Linked DNA regions of Homo sapiens: region 2 is linked to region 1. Evidence: fine-mapped expression QTL. A gene starts in region 1. The other region holds a variant in brackets. All regions are shown on one strand. Distances are from middle to middle.

Region 1 (4,367 bases):
CGCTAGTGACTAGCATTTTCTGGCTATAAGAAACTGCTAGGCCTAGGAGCCAGCCAGGTCCCCCAAGGCATAGATGTTGCTAGCCACATGGGGTGGGGGCCAATTTTGCCCCATTTAGGAAACTGCTTGCTCCTCCCCTGCTTCTGCCATCATCATCTTTCTACAAGTCTGGAAAAAAAAGTCTCATTCTTTTGTTTTCTCTTCCCTAACTTTTTAATTCTTAAATAACAACAATTTCTTAAAATATTTACTGATCACCCAGAATCACCATCCAACCTATCAAATATTCTCATTACGAATGTGGTTCAGTTATAACTATGAGAAACGTGACCTTAGTTTGGAAAGACTCTTAATATCTTATATCTGGCTTTTTGGGGATTGTATATAGTTTCTTTTCATGAATTGGTAAGAGTTGACATGTTTTTCTTATTATTTACCTGCTAAAAACAAATAGAAACGTCAGCTTCTTCTAATGTGTGGGTTTCTTGGATTAGAGCTCTAAGCAGTTGTATTTCTTCTTTTGAGTCTCCCCCACTACCTATACTGTATTTTATTCCTTCTTCCCTCCCTTCTCATTCTCCCCTCCCAAATCCTCTTGAGTTTTCTCATGCCTGCTAAGCGGTCAGAACTTTAAAGTCTATTCCTGTCTTCCACACCTAGAATCATGCACCATACGAAATACTTGCCTTGGGCTGGGCGCAGTGGCTCACGCCTGTAATCCCAGCACTTTGGGAGGCTGAGGCGGGCAGATCACGAGGTCAGGGGTTCAAGACCAGCCTGGCCAACATAGTGAAACCCCGTCTCTACTAAAAATACAAAAATTAGCAAGGCATGGTGGCAGGCACCTGTAGTCCCACCTACTCAGGAGGCTGAGACAAGAGAATCGCTTGAACCTGGGAGGCAGAGGTTGCAGTGAGCCGAGATTGTGCCACTGTACTCCAGCCTAGGTGACAGAGTGAGACTCAGTCTCCAAAAAAAAAAAAAAAAAGAAAAGAAAAGAAATACTTGCCTTGTTTCACAACCGTAATACTATATGTACTGTAAAAAAATATATATGCTGTAAAACCTTCATATATCACAATTATGATCTTAGATTTAGTTCTGGCCATTTTATTACAAGATAAATAGTTCTTTTCGTACCAATGGCTGTTTTTCCCTTTATCAAGTGAATATATTTCTTTTTTTTTTTCAAGCTCAAAAATCTCGGATTATAAAGTCGGATGCCTATGTCTGTCCCCTCTACAAGACAAGTGAACGTAAAGGAACTCTTTCCACTACGGGACATTCTACTAACTTTGTCATTGCAATGTTGTTAAAAACAGACCAACCTACTCGGCACTGGATCAAGCGCGGGGTTGCTTTGCTTTGTCAGTTGGATGACTAAATTGGACAAATTTATAAAACATCCAAAAGTTTAAAAAAAAAAAAACCTGTCCTACTTAAAATATATACATTATAAAACCAAGTGTTTTGGTGTTATTCTTTTAAATGATCTTTGCAAACACTCATTGCATTGTTCTCCTTTCTGAGGAGAACTTTTTGAAGTTTGATTGTATGTGAAAAATAGATTTGGGGGTTAAACGGTAACATTTAACAAATATCAGGAATTATCTCCTTCACAAATGTTAAGTCATTCCTTCAGCTTCAGTATAGTTTACTTTCCACTCTCCTACCTAAAGTAATTATACATAAATATTTCAAATACATAAATTAAGAAATTATAAATATGGAAAATATTAAAAGTTACCCAACTATACCTCTTTATTTCTTACCTCTAAGACATCGGTTCCATTTCTCACTGCATCCTTGTGACTAGGAAAGGAAACTCAAAGCTGCGAAGTTGGCCTGCAAAGGCAGTAGGATGGCTTGAGGGCAGTCCGAACTTCTACACCTGCAGTGACAGTGTGCTTCTCGGCATTTGCTTCATATTTAATTTGAAATGTCAAGTGGTCCCTTTGCTTTTTTTAGTGTATATTAACAATTTAAAAATATTTCAACAAAACAGAATTTTGATCAAAATTTTATCTTGTGTAGAGTGAATTCTTCCCTTAGGATTCCAAGGACACTGAAGGCCACAGTTCTGTAACCCAAGGAAAATGTAGTCACAGCTACCTAGTGAATCTAGTACATTGGGACAGTCACTTTGGATAATTGGGTCAGAGCAAAATGTTTGGGTTCTCTTAAGTGAAAAATTGATTGTGGTTTGCAGTGGCTATGTGCATGAATTCTCTTTGCATGGCCAACCCCCTGCAAAAGCATTTTATTCCAGGAATAAAATATTTAATCCTTTAAATTTGATGAATGTAGCACTGAAGAAAAGAGATCATGTTTCCAAAAAGAGCTAAACCACATGTAAAAAACAAGGAGAATGTGCCAAACTGTCTTATGATGAAGTATTTATAGTAAAGCTATTAATGGAATGGTCACTACAGGGGAGAGGAGAGCCTAAATATAAATGAAAATTCTGAGGCTTACATGTGTTAGTCCTTAACAGTGAAAACTTCACTGCTGTCCTAGAGGATAAAACAAAAGGTAAAAAGTCTTTGAAATGTGACCAAATGTATTCTATGCTAAAACTGACATTTTTCTTTTAAAACCATTTAGATATTGCCTAGTAAGATACATTTGTTTTTACTACTGCTGTATCCATGTTGTAATTATGAGAATACATTTGTTCCTATAACATGTTTATTTTTAATGTATATTAAGTAAAATATTATTTTCAGCATCACACTGTGTGTAGGAAAGATATTATTTTGGATGAGTGCTACAATCACTGTGAAAGACTCACAGCCAAGTTGAACAGATCAGAGTGTTGTCAGTGTTAGAGTGGCACTAACCGAAGTCTTATTTGAAAGGTGGTTTTTCCTGAATAAGCTTTAAGTCAATGGCTACTCATGGAAACTTCTAATTTTTGTTGAATCTGTGGCAGTCCACAAAACTTTTTTAAGTTTATAGAAATTTTTTAGTGAATATTTTGTTTCCTAAATTTTGTATATTTTTCATTGTTAATCCTACCAATTTTCTAGATTTCTGAATTTCATTTGTAATTTTAAGCAGTTGATCTCTTCACAACTGGAAAAATACTTTTAATTCACTCTGACTTTAAAGTAAACCTGTCCACGTTTCACATGGATAATTACACCAGCGATGAAGACATAGATGAAGACTTTGACACCCAGCTCATCATTCAACAGAGTTTGCAGGATATTTATAAGCCAGGAACAGCACAACATGCACCTAAGGATGAGAGGTAATGGTTTTCTCATCGGCAATATAGTATTAAGTGTTGTATTCAACAGCTGACACTTGTCATTAGCTTAACTCTAGTGTTGTGACAAAAACAGGAGGGTCAGAATCCAAGGAGCTGTCAATTAAATATCTGTAAGATATTATGCCTAACTAGACAGGAATAATCTGGAAATAATTCAGAATTTAATTAGGCAATAAAAATATCTGAAGGAGGTTAGCAGCAAATCTGGGTGAGGTGATACAGACTGGAAATCAGAAGAAAGAAAGGAGGATATGAAGGGCTAGAGAAAAACTAATACATCTTGTCTTTGGGAATTGAAGAAATGCATAAATCCAACCGGGACACATAGAAAGTTAGTTATCTTCAACCTTAGTAGGGTAGGTGGGGATGGGGTCCAGTCTTTGATCTACTCAAATCAAAAGGAGGAATTACATAAACTTGAACAAGGCTTCTGAAAGTGTAGATTCAGAGTTTTGTTGGACAACACTGAAAAAGGACCAGTGGGACCCTGTGTGGGGTGTAAGAAGAATCGTCCTGGATATGGCACACCTGCTCACACGCTCGCTGGCCAATCAGCAACCTTGGTCTCCTGAGGCAGTAACCATCATTTTTTCAGGGGTGATAACCCAGTTTACTTGGGATGGTAATCTCTATTTGCCTGCTGGATGTAAAACTAGAAAAATGTCTTTTAACCCCAAGAGATTTCATAACTAAATAGAGACAATGAAGTACATCAAACCTATATAGTATTTTTAAAATGTAACAAACCATGGAGTGATCACTATGTGTCATGTTATTTTAAGCACTTCATAAATACTAACTTTTAAATTCTAATTCTCATTACCTCTCTATGAGGTAGGTCCTATTATTATCCCTACTTAGAGAGGAGGAAAGTGAGGCACAGAAAAGTTAAGTGGCTTACCCAAGGTCACAGAACTAGTAAGTGAAGAGCAAGGCAGTCTGATTCTAAAGTCTGTGCTCTTAGCCACACACTATTCCTATACTTTTGTGTTCAATTTAGGATTAGTTTTTAAAATAATCTTTAAATATTTAAAGTTTTGTAAAGAAATTAGCCTTATTAGATTATCTGTTATATTAACCTTATGATTAAAAC
Region 2 (4,399 bases), 71 kb after region 1:
GAGAATCGCTTGAACTTGGGAGGCGGAGGTTGCAGTGAGCCGAAATCACACCACTGCACTCCAACCTGGGTGACAAAGCGAGACTCAGTCTAAATTAAAACAAAAATTAACAAAAAATAAAGAGTCAAGCAAACATTTAGAAAAGGAATCCTAGATTCCAGCTAAGGATGGTGAGGACATGATTTCCAGGCTAACGAGCTGGAAACCACCTACTCACAAATATTCTCTAAAAGACTCCATCAATCTAAAATTCTGGGAAATTCATACTCCTTTTAAAGAGTGTAATGTATAATGCAAAAAATTCTGGTTGTTACCTAGTAAATCACTCCTTAATAGGACTAACTTTAACAGATAATTCATTATTTTCTTAATACCAGCTGAGATAAAGCAGATTCAGGAAAGAGCAGATTTCAAGAAAATTGATAATTTGGGAACTTCAGTCATTTAATCTATTTTAAAACATTAGAGCCAGTAGCAGAGTAGGGGGAAGCTTTGGACAATTGGAGGGTAAAACAAAAAGTTCTGAGGAATGGGTTGCAAAAAGAGGTGGGAGGGCACTAAGGACCAACTGGTTGGTTCTTCATTGTGCCACTGCAAACTAGCTTCTGCCTTTGACCTTGACCTTGATGTCACTTTTACTCATTGCCACAGCATCCTTAGAATGTGGGACAATTCTGCAGCTTCAACTTTCTTGATGGTAAAAAGAAAAAAAAAAACTTCTAGGAAAATTGTATATGCTTTTGTTTATCTATGGTTGCCTTGATTCCTTTTTAGAAGAACACATTAATTAATTTGTCTGAGCAGGCCAAGAACTTTAACACAAAATAGCATCATAGCCCTTCTGTGGAGAGGTAGATGAGAACATGGTTATGAGCTAATAAGCTTGGGCTGTGATTTAAATTCTGGCTCCACTGTTTAGTAGCTCTGTGACTTAAGTAAGGTTATTTAACTTCTCTGTTTCTCCATTCTGCCATCTGAAAAATGGAGCTTAATACTAGAGAACTTACATTAATAGTATTGTTAAGATGATTAATGAGCTTTTAGAGTAGCTCCTAGCGCAATAAGCATTCAGTAAAAATTATCTTTTTCATTATCAACTATTAAATATTAAAATATTTTAATACATTTAAGGAAGCTTTTTTGTCTCTATCATATTTTTTTAAAAACTAATATTTTTTAAATCAGAAGATTGGGCTCATTACCTTAGAGAATCCTGATGCTATTTTAAATAACATTAGTTACTCTTGCTAATGTTTTATCACTTTGATTTGGGGGCTTTTGAGGCCAAAACCAAAATTTCAAAATCAATAAATATGTACTTTGAAATTCTGGAGGAAAAGTGTACCAAAACAATTACCAAAATAGCCAAGATTATTGCCATTTTGAGGTTTTTAGGAGTTTTTGTTTTGTTTTTTGTTTTGTTTTTTGTTTGGCGGGTGGTGAGTGGGTAGAGGTGCCCCAAAGTTAAAAGATTTTCATGACACTTACCCCACATGGGAATTCTGGAAGGAACAGTCAAATCATTGGGGAAAAAATTGCTCATAGGCTGGGGGCGGTGGCTCACAGCTGTAATCCCAAAATTTTGGGAGGCTGAGGTGGGAGGATCGCTTGAGCCCAGGAATTTGAGACTAACCTGTGCAACATAGTGAGACCGTGTCTCTACAAAAAATTTAAAAATTAGCCAGGTGTGGTGGCACATGCCTGTAGTCCCAGTTACTCGGGAGGCTGAGGTGGGAGGATTGCTTAAGCCCAGGAGGTCAAGGCTGCAGTGAGCCGTGATCTTGCCGCTGTACTCCAGCCTGGTGATAGCGAGACCCTGTCTCAAAAAAATGCTTTTAGGGAAATTAATATGTCCTGTGCCTGTTTAATCATTGAAAACATTTTAATATTTTCAGAGCCATAGAGGGCAGTGAAAAACAGAGTAGCAGAATTGATTATACCAGTACTATTTATCCAATGGCTAATACAAATAAGACTCTCAGGGATAATTCACACGTGCTTCCAAGAACACTAGATGGCACCAATTATTTAGGATTCAGACTACCTCAGGGAACAGCTGTCTTCATTCAACAAATATTTATTAAATAATGAACAAAACAAAAATATCTGTCATTGTGGAGCTACAGGTTAGTAGATATGGTGGGGAGAAAGACAATAAAAAATAAACATAGTAAGTAGTATTAGAAGTATAGCATATTG[G/A]CCGGGAGCAGTGGCTCATGCCTATAATCCCAGCACTTTGGGAGGCCAAGGCGGGTGGATCACGAGATCAGGAGTTCAAGACCAGCCTTGACAATATGGCGAAACCCCATCTCTACTAAAAATACAAAAATTAGCTGGGCATGGTGGCACGTGACTGTAGTCCCAGCTGCTCGGGAGGCTGAGGCAGGAGAATCGCTTGAACCCGGGAGGCAGAGTTTGCAGTGAGCCGAGATTGTGCCACTGCACTCCAGCCTGGGTGACAGAGCACGACTCCATCTCAAAATAAATAAATAGATATATAAGAAGTATAGCATATTACAGCTACAAGGCTGTAGTGAGCTATGATTGCACCCCTGTACTCCAGCCTGGGCAAACCTTATCTTATATAGTAAAATAAAGAATAGTATGTTAGAATGTCATAAGTGCTATAGAAAATAGAGTAGGGAAGGCCAGGCACAGCAGCTCATGCTTGTAATCCCAGCACTTTGGGAGGCTGAGGTGGGAGGATGGCTTGAGCCCAGGAGTTCAAGACCAGCCTGAGCAACATGACAAGAACCCATCTTAACAAAAAAAAAGTTTTTAATTGGCTGGGTATGGTGGTGTGTACCTATGGTCCTAGCTACTTGGGAGGCTGAGGTGGGAGGATCGCTTGAGCTGGAGAGTTGGAGGCTGCATTGAGCCATGGAGTACAGGCTGCACTCCAGCATGGGTGACAGAGCAAGGCCTTGTCTCAAAAAAAAAAAAAAATTAGGGAAAACAGAGCCGGGGCAGCTGCAATTTTAAACAGGTTCTTCAGAATGGGCTTCATTGAGAAAGTAACACCTGAACAAAAACTTGGAGTGGCTGGAATGAGCCATGGGGATATCTAGGGAGCAAACATTCCAGAAGGAGAGACCATCAGGGCAGAAGCCGTCACCCCTAATGTAAGAGTGGCCTGGCCTGGTTCAAGAATTGCGCAGAGCCCAAGATGACAGGAGAAGAGCAAGCCAGGGGAAAGCCTGAGGTGTAAAGAAAGGGAGAGGAGGCCACGTCAGGCAAAGCCTTGTGCCCACTATGAGGACTTTGGCTCTTACCCTAATTTTGGACAAAAACACCTTTAATAAAGGCAGCAATTTGAAACAAGTGTTGGGGAAACTGGAGAATTGGTGATATACTATATAATAAATTGTGGGTGGCCAGGCATGGTGGCTCATGCCTGTAATCCCAGCACTTTGGGAGGCCAAGGTGGGTGGATCATTTGAGGTCAGGAGTTCAAGACTAGCCTGGCCAATATGATGAAACCCTGTCTCCACTAAAAATACAAAAATTAGATGGGCAGTGGTGGTGCACGCCTGTAATCCCAGCTACTTGGGAGGCTGAAGCAGGAGAATCACTTGAGCCTGGGGGGCAGAGGTTGCGGTGAGCCAAGATCGCACCGCTGCACTCCACCCTGGGCGACAGAGTGAGAATCTGTCTCAGAAAAATAAATAAATAAATAAACAAATGGCAAATTAACTTTGTCTTAAGTAAACTCAATCATTTACAAGATCCTTTGATTTAAAGGGAAAAGACTACATTAGTGATTTAGCTAAATCACATTCACTATAAACAGGACAAAAAGCAATGTGTTAAGACAATGCTTTAAAAAAGTCATAAAAAATGACTTCATGCTCTGCTACAGGGCTACAGTAACCAAAACAGCATGGTATTGGTACAAAAATAGGTACATAGACCAATGGAACAGAGTAGAGAGCGCAGAAATAAGGCTGCACACCTGCAACCATCTGATCTTCAACAAAGCTGACAAAAACGAGCAATAGGGAAAGGACTCCCTGTTTAATAAATGGTGCTGGACTATCTGGCAAGCCATATGTCGAAGATTGAAACTGGACCCTTTTTTACGCCATATACAAAAATCAATTAAAGATGGATTGAAGACTTAAATGTAAAACCCAAAATTACAAAAACCCTGGAAGAAAACCTAGGCAATACCGTTGTGGACATAGGATTAGGCAAAGATTTCATGATGAAAATGCCAAAAGCAATTGCAACAAAAGCAAAAATTGACAAATGGGATCTCATTAAACTTAAGAGCTTCTGCACAGCAAAAGAAAATATCAACAGAGTAAACAGACAACCTACAGAATGGGAGAAAATTTTTGGAAACTATGCATCTGACAAAGGTCTAATATTCAGCATCTATAAGAAACAAACAAATTTA

Evidence for each region. PIP is the estimated chance that this variant, and not a neighbour inherited with it, causes the effect.
Region 2: its variant is the best candidate, but not a certain one, in a credible set for the expression of ASB14 in skeletal muscle (GTEx, PIP 0.63).

The regions. Positions count from the first base shown.
Region 1 is chr3:57,290,798-57,295,164 of GRCh38, reverse strand. ASB14 (ankyrin repeat and SOCS box containing 14) reads left to right here and starts at 2,480. Exons shown (of 11, transcript NM_001142733.3): 1 at 2,480-2,532; 2 at 3,061-3,253. The coding sequence starts at 3,132. It overlaps DNAH12 (dynein axonemal heavy chain 12), which reads left to right. Exons shown (of 74, transcript NM_001366028.2): 74 at 1,194-1,465. The coding sequence ends at 1,384. LOC124909384 (a long non-coding RNA gene) reads right to left here and starts at 2,374. Exons shown (of 2, transcript XR_007095923.1): 1 at 1,773-2,374.
Region 2 is chr3:57,219,704-57,224,102 of GRCh38, reverse strand. It overlaps a transcript of HESX1 not described here. Among named protein-coding and RNA genes, the nearest start is that of APPL1, 5.8 kb to the left of the region's middle. The variant G/A (reference allele first, on the strand shown) is at 2,200.